Linked DNA regions of Homo sapiens. The protein of the gene in region 5 purifies or fractionates together with the protein of the main gene of each other region. This does not show direct contact. Each region holds a gene or a part of one and is shown on either strand. Other genes may lie near its edges.

What was found.
Region 1: the proteins of L3MBTL4 (region 5) and PMM2 purify together in Homo sapiens (affinity purification with mass spectrometry; one large-scale study listed by BioGRID and IntAct). This does not show direct contact.
Region 2: the proteins of L3MBTL4 (region 5) and PDGFC purify together in Homo sapiens (affinity purification with mass spectrometry; one large-scale study listed by BioGRID and IntAct). This does not show direct contact.
Region 3: the proteins of L3MBTL4 (region 5) and PGD purify together in Homo sapiens (affinity purification with mass spectrometry; one large-scale study listed by BioGRID and IntAct). This does not show direct contact.
Region 4: the proteins of L3MBTL4 (region 5) and SAMD13 purify together in Homo sapiens (affinity purification with mass spectrometry, with the first as the bait; one large-scale study listed by BioGRID). This does not show direct contact.

What each region holds. Positions count from the first base shown.
Region 1 is NC_000016.10:8,804,324-8,807,840, reverse strand, and holds part of PMM2 (phosphomannomutase 2), read right to left. Parts: intron 3,075-3,517; coding exon 2,998-3,074; intron 1,526-2,997; coding exon 1,434-1,525; intron 1-1,433. UniProt on the Homo sapiens protein: Involved in the synthesis of the GDP-mannose and dolichol-phosphate-mannose required for a number of critical mannosyl transfer reactions.
Region 2 is NC_000004.12:156,968,999-156,973,230, forward strand, and holds the start of PDGFC (platelet-derived growth factor C precursor), read right to left. Parts: upstream 2,802-4,232; 5' UTR 1,906-2,801; coding exon 1,788-1,905; intron 1,601-1,787; exon of another isoform or gene 1,521-1,600; coding exon of another isoform or gene 1,508-1,520; intron 1-1,507. UniProt on the Homo sapiens protein: Growth factor that plays an essential role in the regulation of embryonic development, cell proliferation, cell migration, survival and chemotaxis. Potent mitogen and chemoattractant for cells of mesenchymal origin.
Region 3 is NC_000001.11:10,418,537-10,421,027, forward strand, and holds the end of PGD (6-phosphogluconate dehydrogenase, decarboxylating), read left to right. Parts: intron 1-289; coding exon 290-389; intron 390-880; coding exon 881-1,003; intron 1,004-1,093; coding exon 1,094-1,213; 3' UTR 1,214-1,975; downstream 1,976-2,491. UniProt on the Homo sapiens protein: Catalyzes the oxidative decarboxylation of 6-phosphogluconate to ribulose 5-phosphate and CO(2), with concomitant reduction of NADP to NADPH.
Region 4 is NC_000001.11:84,325,703-84,329,219, forward strand, and holds part of SAMD13 (sterile alpha motif domain-containing protein 13), read left to right. Parts: coding exon 1-46; intron 47-3,517.
Region 5 is NC_000018.10:6,412,110-6,416,298, reverse strand, and holds the start of L3MBTL4 (lethal(3)malignant brain tumor-like protein 4), read left to right. Parts: upstream 1-1,387; 5' UTR 1,388-1,498; exon of another isoform or gene 1,499-1,591; intron 1,592-1,682; exon of another isoform or gene 1,683-2,339; intron 2,340-4,189. UniProt on the Homo sapiens protein: Putative Polycomb group (PcG) protein. PcG proteins maintain the transcriptionally repressive state of genes, probably via a modification of chromatin, rendering it heritably changed in its expressibility.

The DNA.
Region 1 (3,517 bases), on a different chromosome or scaffold from region 5:
TTGTACCCATGGCAGAAGGTAGGTCCCCAAACCAAACATTTATGAAAGCCAGGGGCAGTGGCTAATGCCTGTAATCCCAACATTTTGGGAGAGTGAAGTGGGAGGATCGCTTGAGGCCAGGAGTTGGAGACCAGCCTGGGCCATACGGCAAGACCCTATCTCTACAAAAAATTAAAAAATTAGTCAGGCATGGCGGCATGTGCCTGTAGTCCCAGCTACTCAGGAGGCTGAGGTAGGAGGATCACTTGAGCCAAGGAGGTTGAGGCTGCAGTGAGCTATGATCATGCCACTGCACTCCAGCCTGGGCAACAGGGCGAGATCCTCTCTCTCAAAAAACAAAACAAAACAAAAAACAAAAAGAAAGCCTAGGGAGACAGAAAATGAGAGAAGCAGTCTGTGACTGGAACAAATGTCCATGAGTCAGGTGGCAGCTGCTCAGGTGGCACCTGCCGGCAGGGAACTGGGAGCCGGAGTAGCCAGGTCTCAGATTTGCCAACAGAAGCCAGAAATCCAGATGTTTAAAACATAAAATCAGGCTGGGCAAGGTGGCTCACGCCTTTGACACCAGCAATTTGGGAGGCCAAGGTGGGTGGATCAGTTGAGGTTGGGAGTTCGATATCAGCCTGGCCAACAGAGTGAAATGCCATCTCTACTAAAAATACAAAAAAAAAAAAAAATTAGCTGGGCATGGTGGTGTGCGCCTATAATCCCAGCTACTCGAGAGGCTGAGGCAGAAGAATTGCTTGAACCTGGGAGGCGGAGGTTGCAGTGAGCTGTGAGATCCTGCCACTGCACTCCAGCCTCGGCCACAGAGTGAGACTCGGTCTCAAAAATAAATTCATAAATAAATAAAACAAACATAAAATCAGACTTTTACATGATGGCAATTAATCCGATTTTCTTTAACACTGCAGGCCAACCAGATTTGGGTTTTACGTGGATCTGGCCCGAAGGCTTCCTGTCTCAGACTTCCCGATCTAGGGTTTCTGTTGCTTTTTGTACATGCTGCTTCACTGCTGTTTCCTCTCACTGACAGCCTTTGAAAGCATATGGTCTTCAATGGTTGTATAAATTTCCATCATGTGGATAAGCCATCATTTACGTAATCATTCTTGTACTGTTGGCTTTGTGGACTGTTTCCAATTATTCCTTACTAAGTGCTGGGATTCGGATTTAAATTCGCTGGCCCATGGTGGCTACTGAACCCTGCTGTGAACCAGCAGCACCAGGGCAGCCAGAGAAAATGTGGATTTCCAAGCTCGGCTCTCAGGCTTTCTGAACCAGAATTGCCAAGGGGCGGGCTAAATATCAGACTTTGTTTTTAAAACTCTTTAGGTGATTTTTATAATCCTATTTGGAGAATGCCCACATTAGCCCACCATGTGACACTACGCTATGTTCCTGTGACGCCTCTTTGTTAAAAGCAAACCCACCTCTTCTTCGGGAGTTTAATTTTCGCAATGTAGCTCAGACAGTAGTTGATTAAATCTTGGATTAGGGCCTCACCCAGATGACTTTGAATATTCTAGATGAAGAAAATACTTGAGTTACTTGATTTAGCAGGAGCATTTTCAAAACAGCTTCATAGCAAACCCAGGGTCTTCAGCCACGATTGCTGAAAATCAGTAGGCTGATGTAGCAGTGATGGTGACATGCCCCACTGTCTGTTTAATTCCTTCTCTTATTTCTCTGGTCAAAAGCATTAGGCAAGCCAGAAAAGCTTTAGTCAAAAGCATTTTCTGCTTCATCACCCAAGATTTTTGTACTCATTATTGTTCAAATGCTTCCTGTAAGGTCCAAAGAGCTTACTGCTGCCACTTTTATTCAATTAAAATATCTCCAGATATTGACAGACAATATATTTGTTCCACTTCGGCATTCTCTTATGTCTGAATAGAATGATCTTACTACTACTAAGAGCTACACAGTACCTCTTAAAAATGCTTATAGTGCCCAGGCGTGGCAGCTCACACCTGTAATCCCAGCATTTTGGGAAGCTGAGGCAGGTGGATGACTTCAAGTCATGAGCTCGAGACCAGCCTGGCAAACATGGTGAAACCCTGCCTCTACTAAAAATACAAAAATGAGCCGGGCATGCTGGTGGATGCCTGTAATCCCACCTAGGGAGGCTGAGGCACAAGAATCATTTGAACCCAGGAGGCAGAGGTTACAGTGAGCCAGGATTGAGCCACTGCACTCCAGCCTGGGCAAGAGTGAGATTCCACCACGAAAAAAGAAAAAAGAAAAAAAAAAATGCTTATAGTGAAGCAGTCTGCTCTAGTTTTATCATCATAGAAATGTTATTAATAGATTTAAAGCCAGGCTTGGTGGCATGTGCCTGTAGTCCCTGCTACGTGGGAGGCTGAGGCAGAGGATCACCTGTGCCCAGGAGTTCTAGGCCACTGGGATTGCACCACTGCACTCCAGCCTGGTTAACACAGCAAGACCCCATCTTTTTAAAACAAGAAGAAAAGGCTGGGTGTGGTGGCTCATGCCTGTAATCCCAGCACTCTGGGAGGCTGAGGTGGGCGGATCACTTGAGGTCAGGGGTTAGAGATCAGCCTGGCCAACATGGTGAAACCCTGTCTCTACCAAAAATACAAAAATTAGCTGGGTGTGGTGGCGTGTGCCTGTAATCCCAGCTATGGGGGAGGCTGAGGCGTAAGAATTGTTTGAACCAGGGAGGCGGAGGTAGGCGGAGGTTGTAGTGAGCTGAGATCGTGCCGCTGCACTCCAGCTCCAGCCTGGGTGACAGAGCAAGACTCCGTCTCAAAAACAAAATAAGAAAAGAGAGAAATATTAGATTTAAAAAGTATAAAAATTTAGTTATCAATGTAGAATATGTAATAGTCACATGGTTCAAAATGCAAAACAAAAAATACAGAGTAAAGATTCATTTCTACCCGTTCCTCATCTTCCTAGAGGCATTCATTGTGAAATGCCCTTTTAGAAAACACTTTTAATAGTATATAGTAATTCAGATACTCAAGAACCTACCTGTCTACACAAGAGTTTCCCATCTTTGTATGCTACCAAGCCATTTTCTGGAAACACATAATCGTATTTTTCAACCACTACAATCAAAACCAAAAAAACACTTAGAATGCAAAGAATCAAAACCTGTGTTTTTACTCCTTGATTAACAATGACCACCAATAAAACCGCTAAACTCCAGCAAGGACTGTGAAAGACTATCTCATCTTACAGACTAAGAGAAGAGTATGGAAAAAAGTTCCTTGTTTTTTTAATGGCTCTTTTTGGTTACACATTTAAACGATGATGACTGGGCAGGAGATTAGGGACTTGGTGACAGGTTATCTTATGTCCCTGACTTCAGCCTGACTGTCTGTAGAGGAAGATACTCGTCCATGATGCTGATGGTTCACCAGCAGCAACCAGGGCAGTGTGAAAATGCAGATTTCCAAGCTTTGCTCTCTCGCTTCCTGAATCAGAATTGCTGAGGGACAGGCTAAATATATTTTTAAAAAAGCTCTTTGGGTCGGGTGCGGTGTGGCTC
Region 2 (4,232 bases), on a different chromosome or scaffold from region 5:
TAGCATGGGGATCACAAGAGAGAACTAAAAGGAAAGGACAAAGAGAAGCACAGGTCAGCAAAGAGATTCGGGCAGATGCCAAGAGAGGCTTGATAAGACAAGGCAATAGGAGAAATGATATGGGACAGGAACAATAAAAAACAGAAGCCAGGAAGCCAGGAATATTGTGCATTGTTGTCATTATGGAGGAGCTTGGCTAGTAAGAAGCAATATTTTGAACTGGACATTTATTTTACATGAGAAAGAACAAAGGTTGGTCTGATGTGTTTCCTGCACGGGTACAGCTGGTGCTGTGGCTCCTTTGATCACTTTCCCCCAGACCTCTGCAGCTACTGTGATTAGAGATACATCCCTAGGCTGCCCTTTGATCAGCAGCTCAAGGAGCCTGCAGGTGCCATGTGGCATCACATTAGCAAGTTGTAAGAAGCACCACACTAATATTAGCTGATAAATGTGATACTATGTCTTGCTGCGCAACAGCAAATACAAATAACGTTTGCAAAAGTCGGCAGAATCCTTATTTTATCTACTTTTATACCCTAAAACTTTCTGTGCTTTCTTAAACATGAACACTTCATAGAGTTTAAATTCAAAGTTGAAGTCTTGAAACACCCCAATATGAAAAGGAAAAAAAATCACTCTGACTTAAAACTATAGCACATCCTATCTTAATTTTGTAGGTATGCCACTTGTGTTCATTTTGCATGGTTAATCAAGTGACAGAATCCTTGCATTCTGAATAGATGATATACAAAGCAGTAAAAACATGTATATTCCTTTTCAAATTACAGTAAGAGCCACCATTTGTAAACAGGGCGTTAAATATTCCAATTTTAGACAGCCTAACATGAACATTGTGGTTTCATGTGCAGTATAAAATTTCTATTTACAAAGTATTCTCAAAAATGACTTCATAATGGTAGATGAAGAGAAAAAGAGTTTAGAAATTGAATGATGTAAATCATATGGGTTCAGAGGCTAAGCAAATTACACACCCTGAAGCTGCCCTGGCTTTATGAAAGGAGCCTTTCTCCAGCTCTGTGCAATCCCAGCCCAAGGGAACTTGCATCTGAGAGTTTTCTAAACATTTCAGGTACACTTGAAAGCTGAAAGTAATTCTCATTTCCTATGCAGGATTAAGTCGTTTCCAGCACACACAAAATAGCAGTCATTCACCAACACATACAAAAACACACCACCAGAAAGGTAAGGACTTCAGAGTACAAAGGCAAGTTTAAAAAACAAAAACTAGGGAGCAAGAGAAATACACTTTTTAATTCCTCTAAAAACGACCACACAGCCTCTTGACCTCTATATTTCCTATCTACTCATTGATTAATTGATGACTTCGACCTAGAGTGCTTCAATTAATGCGGCTGATATATTTCCTGACCGACCCCCCTCGCCCTCCCCAAATCTGAGTAAAGTCAAACATGCCAAGGCTCATTCATTTTGGATTCGTTTTTAGAGGCAGTTCTTGAACTTCTAACTTTAGCAATGAGCGAACCTGCAATGTGCATTTGAAATGACGTTCACAATCGCTCCCAGAATGTCCTCACTCAGCAGTGGCACTCACGTTGCCCTCTTGGAGCTTTGTGGCAGCTCCCGAAGTTGCAAACTACACTTAACCTTTAACAGTCCATGCCAATGAACGCAGCGCACATTTGCATGTAATGAGAGACCAAAGATACCTTCACAGTCTGGTATATATCACATACCAACGCACAATGCCAACGTTAACACACACAGCGAGAAACAAGCAGGGGGAGAATGGGGGAAAGACTCACCGTTCTGTTCCTTGTTGCTGGAAAACTGGAATTTACTACTCAGGTTGGATTCCGCCTGAGTCCCCTGTCTCTGGCCGGCCAGGGCAGATGTCAGCAGGAGAAGCCCGAAGAGGCTCATTTGGCTGACTGGGGTGAGAGCTCACTCACGGCGGGCACTTTGGAAGCAGCGACTCCCGAGTCTCTTTCACCACCGCCAGGGGAAGGCTGCACTGGGGTGGAAGCGCCGAGCCTGCTCTGGCAGCAGAGAATCGCAGGGTAGTTTCCACATAATCCCATCCAAAACTTTTTCCTAGAGCCCTCTTCTGTGTCTCCAGTTTTTGAAAAGGATCAAAGCAAAACCTGGACCTGAACCAGTTTCCCAAGGTTTAAACAAATCCTGAGCTGTGGCGAAGTGGTGGGGGTGGGGGTGAAGGCGAGGGAGGAATGAGGGGGTGGGGACGCGGGGGAGCGGCGAGAAGTCCCCAGCAAGTTGCTGGGAGCACCTGTCAGTTCGGGGGACAGGACAGAGGCGAAAACTCAAGGGTTGCCCGCAGCCAGACTGGAAGCCAAGTCGGCGGCGAGCAGTTTCTGATCAATAACAAAGCTGCCAATAGATGCGGCTCTCCGGGCGCCCCTCTCCCCCGCCCCACCCCCCACCCCCGAAGGGGGAGGGGGAAGAAACAAGGCGAGGGCGCCGCGGCGGGTCCCACGGGCCGGGGCGCCGGAGCGGGGCCGGGGGGCTCCGGGCCGACGGCGGCCCGGGCGCAGGCGGAGAGAGGCCGCGGGGCTCCCGCTCCTCAGCCCGGAGCGCAGTTGGCCCCGGGTTCGGAGCGCCGCAGCACGGATTCCGGCACCTGGCTTGAGTTTTCCGCGACCAAAGTTCACCTTGTTCGGGCTCGTCCCCCGCTCCTCAAAGCCTGGGGCAATTCGGCCGCTCGGGGTCACCGCGGGGCTCCGGTTGTTCCCCGTCCCCTCCCCCCACGCCTCGGGCTCCGCGCTAACCTCGGGGCTACGCGCGGCGTCTCCGCACGGGGTGAAGAGGGAAGGCCGGGGCGGCCGGGAGGATCCGGCTTGTCCCCTCCCCTTCTCTACCTTCCCCCCGCCGGGCGGCAGACAGGAGGTGGGGGCCGTGGGCCGAGCCCGGGCGGAGCGCGCGCCTGGCGAGCGGGGGCGGCTCAGCGGCTCTCCCGCAGGCGGCCGATGGGGCGGGCGGGGGTCAGCGCCTCTGGGAGGGGCAGCCCTGGGACGCGTCCGCGCGAGCGGGCTTGGCCGCCCACTGGCTGTCAACAGGTGCTGCGCAGACAGGGGGTGCTGCGGGACTCGCTGTGGGCAAGACCCCGGTGGCCCAGGAGAGGAACGCGGCCAAGGCGGCCCCTGCTTTCCCTTCCACGGAACACCTCTAACCCCAAATACAGAGCACGATGGGTGGTGAAGGGTGCTGCAGAAGTAAGTGGGAAAGAACTTCCTGCAGCTCTCCTTCTCCCGCCCCCTGTCGCCTGACTTGTCATTAGTTTCCAGGAGGGCTCCCCACTCCCTAAGGTCTTTGCTAGGACCCTTGGCCAGAGTTTCAGAACAGAAGGAAGAAGGGAAATGAATTCAAAGGCTTTCCTCCAATTTCCAGCTCCGTAAAGCAGGACAAATAAAGCAAAAGTAAAGGCAGCCAAAATAACATCCATTTAACAAGTACTATATTTACTGAATGCCTACTATGTCGGGCACTGTTTAGAGGTTGGAGCCGTAGCAGTGAAAACAGACAAAAGTCCCTGCCCTCGTGAAGCATACGTAGTAGTTGGGCAGCATTAAGCTAATAGCAAGCTCTTCTGAGAATGGTGTCTAAGGGACTCAGAATGATCCTGCAACCTTGGACTTTCCTACAATACAGCCTCTAACAAAACTAGGCTGCCCTGAACCCCTGGTGATAGAATTGTTTACATTTACACCAAAAAGGTCGAGAAAGAACTGAAATCTCTTGTGGCTTGTGTTCAGGCTGACTTGGAGAGAGAGGCCGATGCTTTAAGACCTAAAGTTCTCATGAGGTAGTCTGAAATGAAACACACATGCCAAGCAGGGCTTATGGTGGTTCCATGTCTGCTAAATATGTCTGTGACAGGATCCAACGTGCTTTCTTTGTGGAGAAGCAGAAAATCATTGTCAATGTGTTAAAGGCACAAGCAGAGAGTCAGAAAAGTTGAATTTTAAAATGAAGCTATTTTTGAGTAATAATCAAAATGAAAACAAGGAAGTGCCATGGCAGGCAAATCAGCAATATCACCCAACTTCTTGTGGAAAAAAAGTCAATGCAAACAATTCGACCATCAAGAACACTTGGGCTGGAACAGAAAACCAAAATAGCAATGTCCCTGAAACTAAGGAGTGGCATTTGGGCAAGAACATATTCTTACTGGACCAAACCAGGGGCTGATCCTTCTTCAGTGGTGAGGAAAATGCCAAGCCCTCTTCTTATAT
Region 3 (2,491 bases), on a different chromosome or scaffold from region 5:
GAGGCCGAGGCAGGCGGATCACGAGGTCAGGAGATCCAGACCATCCTGGCTAACACGGTGAAACCCTGTCTCTACTAAAAATACAAAAATTAGCCGGTTGTAGTGGTGCGTGCCTGTAATCCCAGCTACTGGCGAGGCTGAGGCAGGAGAATCGCTTGAACCTGGGAGGTGGAGGTTGCTGTGAGCTGAGATCGTGCCACTCCACTCCAGCCTGGTGACAAAGCGGGACTCCGTCTCAAAAAAAAAAAAAAAAAGACTCATTGCTTTTTTCCCCCCTTGATTATTTCAGTGTATTCCTAGGAAAGATAAAGGATGCATTTGATCGAAACCCGGAACTTCAGAACCTCCTACTGGACGACTTCTTTAAGTCAGCTGTTGAAAACTGCCAGGTATGTAGCCTAGGGCTGGTGCCATGGTTACTCTACCTCCCTGGGGCCATCAGTTGTGATGTTTGGTTTTTTGTTTTTTTTTTTTGGTTTTTTGTTTTTTTGAGACAGAGTCTCGCTCTGTCACCCAGGCTGGAGTACAGTGGCATGATCTTGGCTCACTGCAACCTCCGCCTCCTGGGTTCAAGCGATTCTCCTGCCCCAGCCTTCCTAAGTAGCTGGGACTACAGGTGTGCCAACATACCTGGCTAATTTTTTTTTTTTTTTTGTATTTTTAGTAGAGATGGGGTTTCACCATGTTGGCTAGACTGGTCTTGAACTCCTGACCTCGTGATCCGCCCACCTCAGCCTTCCAAAGTGCTGGGATGACAGGCGTGAGCCACCGCGCCTGGCCTAACCATCAGTTTTTCATTTACCCACATTGATATGAATGAAAATCTATCCGCGTCACCAGGGGCAGATCACTAATCTCTGGCCGTGCGTTTTGTGCTCAGGACTCCTGGCGGCGGGCAGTCAGCACTGGGGTCCAGGCTGGCATTCCCATGCCCTGTTTTACCACTGCCCTCTCCTTCTATGACGGGTACAGACATGAGATGCTTCCAGCCAGCCTCATCCAGGTAAGCCTGTGGAGCAGGGATTAACCTGGCTGGCCCCTCGGGGGCGTGCGCCATGGACTGTCCTGACCAACCTACTCTCTCGTTTCCTAGGCTCAGCGGGATTACTTCGGGGCTCACACCTATGAACTCTTGGCCAAACCAGGGCAGTTTATCCACACCAACTGGACAGGCCATGGTGGCACCGTGTCATCCTCGTCATACAATGCCTGATCATGCTGCTCCTGTCACCCTCCACGATTCCACAGACCAGGACATTCCATGTGCCTCATGGCACTGCCACCTGGCCCTTTGCCCTATTTTCTGTTCAGTTTTTTAAAAGTGTTGTAAGAGACTCCTGAGGAAGACACACAGTTTATTTGTAAAGTAGCTCTGTGAGAGCCACCATGCCCTCTGCCCTTGCCTCTTGGGACTGACCAGGAGCTGCTCATGTGCGTGAGAGTGGGAACCATCTCCTTGCGGCAGTGGCTTCCGCGTGCCCCGTGTGCTGGTGCGGTTCCCATCACGCAGACAGGAAGGGTGTTTGCGCACTCTGATCAACTGGAACCTCTGTATCATGCGGCTGAATTCCCTTTTTCCTTTACTCAATAAAAGCTACATCAGACTGATGCTCTTTCTCCAGATTCTTAGTCTCACCTCGGCCACATGGAGCCATTATCCCCATTGGCAGAAAGATTTTTCTTTAAAAAAAAAGACTAGAATAACACAAGAAACCACATTTAGGATTATGCTTCACTCAGAGGAGGCAGGCAGGGAGGACACACCAGGGGCTTTAATACACTGGGCATGTTTTCTTTCTCCAATTGGGCAATGGGTACATGGACGTTCACTGTAACGTGCTTTTTCTTTCGTCTTTTTTTTTTTTTTTTTTTTTTTTGCTCCTGGCAAGCTGTGCGTGACATTCTTTATGGCTTTTTGTATGTCAAATACTTCATACTAAACTTTCTAGAGAATTAAACTTTAATGATGGGCTCAGCTTGGTCTGATTTATTTCCTTTCCCACACCTGTCTCTACTTGCTCTAAGCCAGGCCCAGGGATTTTGAACAAGCTAAGCCGGCTCCTTAAACTAGGCTTTTCACTTTATCTTACTTACTCAGAGAAGATAAAACCTGCCAGTGATATTGTTGTGTGGCCTGGGGCCAGTGTGACTGTTCCCTGCAGCGGTTTGACTTCATGATGATTTCCCTGGAGTGTTAAAGTCCTAAGAGTTGCCTAAGAGGAGCGAGCAGCGCCTGTGCCTCGACAGCTGGTGTCTACAGTGTGACCTCTGACCTCTCGGCTAATGTCAGTGAAGGAGACAATTTTCATTAAATCACCAACTTTTAATTTATTTTTCTTTTTTTTGAGACAGAGTCTCGCTCTGTCACCCAGGCTGGAGTGCAGTGGCGTGGTCTTGGCTCATTGCAAGCTCCACCTCCCGGGTTCACACCATTCTCCCACCTCAGCCTCCAGAGTAGCTGGGACTACAGGTGCCCGCCACCACTCCTGGC
Region 4 (3,517 bases), on a different chromosome or scaffold from region 5:
CCGAACCGTGGGATTTGAGGAGCAAGCTAGTGCTTTTCAGGAACAGGTAACTTGGTCTAGAGAAACACGTGATGAACATGTGATGAACCCACAGTTACCTCCCTTCCCAACAGTGGGCAGAAGGGAGTGAGGAGGAAGAGGACCAAAGAGCAGGGAGGAATCAGTGAGGCTCTGAGAAACTGAGGGGAAGGAGAATGGATGTACCAGGTGAATTATCCCTTTGTGCAAGGGGAAAACTCAAAGCCGGAGACAGTGGCAGCTGTGGAGAAGAAGGCTAAAGCTCATTTACATCTGTGTCCTCTGAAAGACTGATCATACTCAAGGGTGGAGTGAATCAGCCCTACCTTCAATGAAAACACACTAGAAAGCAGGAAACAGAAAAGAAAGGAAAAGCAGGGACAAACCTGACTGAGAGACATACACCACCTCCTACTACTGGCCTCAGCACCCAATGGACTATTAAGCCCTTTGCAGTTTGCTTTCTGGGTGCTTAGCAAGGTAGAGTGGAAAAAGCACAGGATTGATAGTCGAATCCTGGTTCTTCTATCTCTATGTGACCCTAGGCACGTTACTATGTCTCTCTGAGTCTTGGTTTCATATCTATAACATCAGACTGTCAATAACTTTATAGGGATGTTGTTGTGAGGATTAGTGGACAATATACACACAGTGCCTATGATAGGTTCTGGCATAGTGTTGATACTCAAAAAATGGGATTTCCTTTTCCTCAGGTCCAGGGATGGTATTAGAAAGAGGGAGAAAGTGGCAGGAGTCCATCCCAATTGTCTAGGTGATTCATAGCTCCATGTTGCAGGCTGTGCTAGGTTTGCAGGGTTGGTCTTCAAGGGGCTTTGACCTGAGGAGGCAAGTGGGGGCAACACAGTGTGGTTCACACCAGGCCAGTTCTGTGGGTAAACACAGAGTTCCTATTTCTCTACCAACGAAGGCTGCAGTTTTCTAAGCATTACATTTTCTTTTCTAATATCATAATATTGTAGGGAGAATTAAAAACTGAAAAATGTGTCTGGCTGCTTGTTCCATATCCCTTCAGCCATTGTTCATTCTCTCAAACTATTAGCTGTATGGCCTGAGTTTGGATAAGGTAAACTTTTCTAAAATTGCACACGCCAATTTCTAGATTTCCTTCAACCTATATTTACTTCAGACTTGATCTTTGTACATAAGTATTTTTTTCCTAATTTGGAAAACTTGCTAAAATAGCAGCTTAAATTTCTTCATACCTACCAGAAGAGCTAAAATGAGAAAGGTTGATAATATTAAACATTCACGAGGATGTGGAGCAACTGGAACTCTTTTGTTGTTGGTGAGACTGTGAAATCAACATTCAGACATCTACCCCTTGATGCAGCAGTTTTACTCCTGGGTATTTACCCAAGGGAAATGAAAACACATGTCTGTAAAAAGATTTGTACAAAATTGTTCTTACTAGCTTTATCACAATGGTCAAAAATTTGAAGCCTAGGTGTACATCAATAGGAGAATGAATACACAAACCGTGATATATTCATACAGTGGAATACTCCACAGTAATAAAAAGGAATGAACTACTGTTATGTGCAGCCATTTGCATGAGTCTCAAAAACATATTACTGATTGAGAGAAACCTTACATAACTGAGTTCATACTGAATGGTTCCATTTAGATAAGGTTTCAGAACAGGAAAATCAATCAGTGGTAAAAAAACAATCAGAACAGGGGTTGCCTCTGGCTGCGTGGGGGTGGAAAACGACTGGGAAGGAGTATGAGGGAAATTTCTGGGTGATGGTAACATTCTGTATCTTGATACAGGCTTGGGTTACAGGTATGCATGGGTCACTGCTTGCTAATACACAGGCATATGCAAATGATTCAGGTTTGTGCATTACAGAACATACACATTTTACTTCAAAAAGAAAAGAACTATGAAAAACACCTAAACAGTGGTATAAAAACAGAAGTGTTTAGGGTAAAGTATACTGATATATACAAGTCAATTTAAAATGCATCAAACATATGCATTGGCAATTAAATAGAAGGGTGACTATGTGGACATATATGTGGTAAAGCAAGTACAGGAAATGTTAATTGTAGCATCTAGGTGTTCAGAATATGGGTATTTACTATAAAACTCTGATGAGTTTTCTTTATGTTTGAAAAACTTTTATGAATTGTGATGGAAAAAACTGCTCAGGTTGGAAAGTGGAAGGCCGCTGATCAGCTGGAACATATTTTATTTTGTTTTTCACTGGTACAATGTCCATTTGTGTCACAGCAATTGAATAGCACTCTTCTAAAATTAAATGTAGATAATATTGTAAATGGTTAACAAAAAAATACTTAGCTAAAAGGTCTCTTGGCCAGATTCCCAGCTGACCAAAAGCCCTTTGCAGGTTGAGCTTTTGCTCAGACTCCTTGGAGGCAGACATCCCAGACTGGGGGCACACGATGGTCTCTGGACCTTCCAGGTTCTGTGACTTACCTCAGAAATGGGACTGCCAGCTCTGAGCCTGGCCCACGAGCAGGCACTTTCTCCCATGGATGATCTCATTCTGTCCCAATGGACACTGGGAACCATAATGGGAATAAACTCTTCTAAAGCATTTCATTCAGAAATCCTTCAAGGGAGAAGTGAGCATCGTCTTGCTACTATGTTCAACCTGCCAACTCGGAAGCCTGAGAAATGAATTCTCAAAGGATCAGAGTTTTGCAAGCATGGTCCAGAAGCTTGAGTTTCTTCATTCTCATGGAAGGGTGATTGGGTCAGGGAAGAGTCTGCCTTGAATTTGTCTCTGGCAGTGATTCAAATATCGTTTCTCCTTTTCCCATTAAAGGACTGGAGGGCAGGGAGGGAATCACTGGCCAGGCTTAGGATGGTAAGATAAGTCGCTGCTGTGATATTCATGAGGACTGAGGATTGGATCCTCTACCATGTTAACCTGCCTCTTCCATCATCACACTACAGAGGGCATCAGCATTTTACCTCTGGAGTCTTCCTGGCAATGAACCTAGTTGGTTAGCACCCACTCATCATCCTGATTAGAAAATGCAGGCCTTCTCCAGCCCAAGCACATGGCCCTTCCAAGGTACATGCAGGTACATGCAAGGTCACAGCGCTGAGAAACAATTAGAACAACTGCCTCCTTAAACTCTCCTCAGGAAAGCTTTGCCCTTCCACTTGACAGAAGCAGGACAGGGATGGAGAGCATCCCCTAAACCACTTTTGAAAAGGGCAAGTCCAGAAAGGGCAGCACGGTTGCCAGTGATGTGGGGAGCTTATTGTTTCATGGCTATTATGAGCTGAATGTTTATGTGCCCCCAAAACTCTTATGTTGAAAACCTAACCCACAGTGAGGATATTAGGAGGTGGGATCTTTGGGAGGTAATTAGGTTTAGATGAGGTCATGAGGATGGAACCCCCATGATGAGATCAATGCTCTTATAAGAAGAGAACAAGACACCAGAGAGCTTACTCTCAGGTGTAAGGATACAGCAAGAAGACAGCCTTCTACAAGCCAGC
Region 5 (4,189 bases):
TCTAATATCTTTTTCTTTTTGTTTTTCTTTTTCTTCTTCTTTTTTTTTTTTTTGAGTTGGAGTTTCGCTCTGTTGCCCAGGCTGGAGTGCAGTGGTACTATCTCAGCTCACTGGAGCCTCTGCCTCCCAGGTTCAAGCGATTCTAGTGTCTCAGCCTCCCGAGTAGTTGAGATTACAGGCGCCCGCCACCACACCCAGCTAATTTCGTATTTTTAGTAGAGACAGGGTTTCACCATGTTGGCCAGGCTGGTCTCGAACTCCTGACCTCAAGTGATCCGCCCTCTTCGGCCTCCCAAAGTGCTGGGATTACAGATGTGAGCCGCCATACCTGGCTAATATATTTTTCTTAACTGACTAGAGCACAGAACACAAATCGTGTGTTTGCACTTACAAATTTCTATGATCATTGTTCCTAGTTTAAAAACTTCATTAGCAAAGGGGTTTATATTTCTCTTTTCAGTAAGGACACGAAATTATGTTTCAACAATGCCCAGTCTCACCTAAAAAGCAAGTTTTCATTCTCTGTTTATGGTAGCCCACGACAAACCAAAAAGATCATTTTGGATGGTATCATTGTTAATCCTGCTAAATGATTCAATTTCCTGCTGAAAGCAACAAACTAATACTTATTTAGTACCTACTATTTATTATTTGCATACTAGGGTTTATACACAAGGCGTCCTATGAAAGAACATTTCATTCAAAAGTCACAACATATAGTCTTCAATTATCAGCTACCTTTATTTGTAAGCCAAAATAAATGATTTAATACAGTCCTCCCAAACTGGGAGACAATGCTTTGAGAAAGGCCAAAGCTAGCCAGTAAGGCCATAAGTTCCATGAGGGCAGGATCTACCCAGCTCCTGTTTCCTGCTCAATTCCAAGCAGTTAGAACAGGGTCAGTAAACACTGCTTGCCACTTGGAAAGAGTATTCTTTTATTTGGAAATGGTATCCAGGTACTCGTGAGTAGCAAAGTCAAGAGCAGGAAAGGGGAGTGGGGGAGGTTGCAAAATCGGAGCGAGCAGCAGGACCGAGAGGGATCCGGAGGAGAGAGCCTTCAGACGGTGAACCCCAAGAGCTGGGATGAAGCATGGGTGAGCTACTGGGACTTCGCTGCCAGGGAGCAAGCTGGCAGGCAGGAAGTAGCCAAGATTTGGGGGAATCCTTCCCAGGGAACGAATACAGAGAAGGACGCATCTGAAAATTCCGCCGCAGCCACCTCCCTCCCATGGGAAAGCCCCGACCTCGGCGGGCCCAGCGCCACCCGGCTCCCCGGGGTGTGGAACACTGAGCGAGGCAGGTGCGGCGGGAGCATGCGCGCGGGGCGGGCAGGGGGCGGCTCCCGCGCCCCCACCCCGCGCGTGCACCCTCGCGCCCCTCCCGCCGGGCACCGCGGGGCAGCGGCGCCGCAGCCTGGGCTGGCGGAACCTCGCGCTCCGACTCGCCCCCCGCCTGTAGCTCGGTCGGCGTTGCGGGCAGGCGCCGCTCCGCTGGGGGTAAGAAGGACGCCGCCGCCCGCGTGGGATGGTCGCGAGCCCGCGTGGGTGCCCACGGCCGCCGCCGCGCGGGGTGGCCCCATCCCCGGGCAGGTAGAGGGGCCTGCACGACTCCCGCGGCGAGGGCCGGGCCGGTGGGGGCGGTGGCGGTTGGGGATAGCCCCGGTCCCGGCCCAGGCTCTTTCTCTTTCTCTTTCGCCGCCGGGGCGCGCGCCGGGCTCCCCGCGAGAGGCGCTGCCTCACTTGTCGCCTACTTTGGACGGGCGCGGCCGCCGCAGAGCCCGGCGCCTCGGTCAGCCGCGAGGGCAGGGTCGGGGTGCCAGGCGCGGCTACCTGGGCGCCCTGGAGCCAGCGCAGCCTGGGACCGGGGGAGCGGGACGGGACGGGACTCCTGAGGGCCCCCAGGCAGTCCTCCGGCCATCGAGCGCCCGGCGGTGGGCATTTGGCTTTTGTTTCCTCTGGGGCTAACGCCCCCGTCTGCCCGCGTGTCCCCCTCAGCCGACAAGTGTCGTGTGCCCGGACGGGCGAGCGCTGCCTCCCTCCACCCGCTTTCTGCCCTTGTCTTCCTCTGCGAGTTCTGCCCAGCCTCGGGAGCGGGAGCCCAGGGAGTGCGCGCAGGGCGGGCGGGCGCCTGGCCAGCCTGGGACGGCGGCTCTCAGGCTCCTGCCACCGCCTGGAACTGCGGGGGGCGCGCCGGCCACAGTCGCCCTCGCCTGCTCTCCGGGCCTTCTTGGGCCCGCTTGGTCCCAGGTGGACGCGAGTCGAGCTGGGCACACCTGGGCCAGCGCCGCACTTACCTGCGGGATTGGTGAGAGCGTTTTCGCGAGGTCGCAAATTCCGGGTGGGTATTGTCCCCTGCTTTTGATCTCCCTTAGTCACTGGTTAAAGTGCGAAGTGTGCTTTATCTTACATATGCCTTTAGAGGGACATTCTTAATGCGCCAATGCCCCGAGGTGGAACTAAATAAAGGGAAGGCCTGGTCATTGTTACTGTTGAGACTGCTGTACTTAACAGTCAGAGGAAGGCAGCTGGTCACCACGACCCACTCGGCCATTCCCATGCTGAAGACTCGCTCTCACTTCACACTTGTTTGGACTCCACTATGACTTGCTGGTGGCCCATCTCCTGGATCCTTCTGTTGGAGCTGTTCTAGAAGATGCTTGTGGCAGGCTCCAGTTTCAGTCCTTGGCTGAAATAAGTGTAGTGTGGCTCTTCGGTTTTCTAATCTATTCCACCTAAAAAGGTTAAGGTGACAAACAGGTGGTGGGTACAGTAGAGTTGTTTTTGGCCCTTGGTAATATTAAAAACTTGGAATGCATTCCTTATATTACTACAGAATTAGGAGAAACGGTTGAAAGAGGAGAGGTTTTTTTCTTGGAGTATCCAAAGGGATTGGATTCGACTACACTGACTTGGTGTGTAATGGTTGAGTAGGAAGGAAGATGAACATAAAACTGCTATTAATTATGCTCTTAGATGTGAGGCAACATTGAGGATGTATTGCATGTAACCCTTGACTGCAGAATCACTTAGCACTTTGCTGTACAATATTGGGGTCACAAGAAATGTTCAGCTTGGTTAACCTCTGCAGTGTGCTCTCACTCAGTTTCCAAAGAAAGGGTATTGGTGGGAAGGTGATCTGGTGAAGACAGAGGTAATGAAAGTGAAGGAACTGTGTTAACTTTCACTTTTTAAACATTTTATTTTTATTTTTTAGAGATAGGGTCTCACTCTGTCACCCAGGCTGAAGTGCAGTGGTACCATCATGGCTCACTGCAGCCTTAACCTCCTGGGCTCAAAGGATCCCGCCTCAGCCTATTGACTGGGAGGGTAGCTGTGCACCACCATGCCTGGCTAATTTTCTAATTTTTTTTTTTTTGTAGAGACGGAAACTCATTTAACTTTCACTTTAAAGAGAAGTAAGCTTGCATATTTTAAAGTTCTCATAAGAATCTTAGGTGCTCTGTAACATCTGTATAACTTCATTACAGTACCTGTGTGGTTTATATCTTAAACGACACTTCTTACTCCTTTTTGGTGGTAATAAGCCTCCTTTGCTTGGCATGGGACTTGGCACGTGGGTAAGTGCATGCTCAACAAATACTCGTAGGACCGAGTCCGTATGTGAGCAGACAACTGCTGAGCAGAGGCAGGAGGTGATAAAAGCAACAGTGAGGGAGATCAGGCTGACTCTGAAGGAAGATTTGCTGATGGAAAGCCCTCGAGTTCTTCCTATGAAGAAAAGGCCAACCTGAAAGCCACTTCCAGGAGGCTGCGTAGGAAGCACCAGCACCCAGTCTGACCAAGGAAGCAGAAGCTTCAATCCCTCCTCCCCCCATCACTCCTTCAAGTGGGTTAAGTTTTCTGTTCTCCAGAGAGCCGAAGGAGGGTCTGAAAATCGCCATTAGATAAGTGTTCATTCTTTCAGTTAATTATTATAATTAAGAAAGAATGCTGCTGCTGGTGAAGTGGGGGAGTGAGCAGGAGAGGTAGGTTTGGTGGGCTGGAGGCAGGGTGGAAAGGATAAATTCCATTTATACAACACTGGATTGAGAAAACCAAAGACTGCACGTTCTCACTTACAAGTGGGAACAAAATGATAAGCACACATGGACACATAAAGGGGAACAACATACACTGGGACCTATCGAAGGATGGGAGGAGGGAGGGGATCAGGAAGAATAACTAATG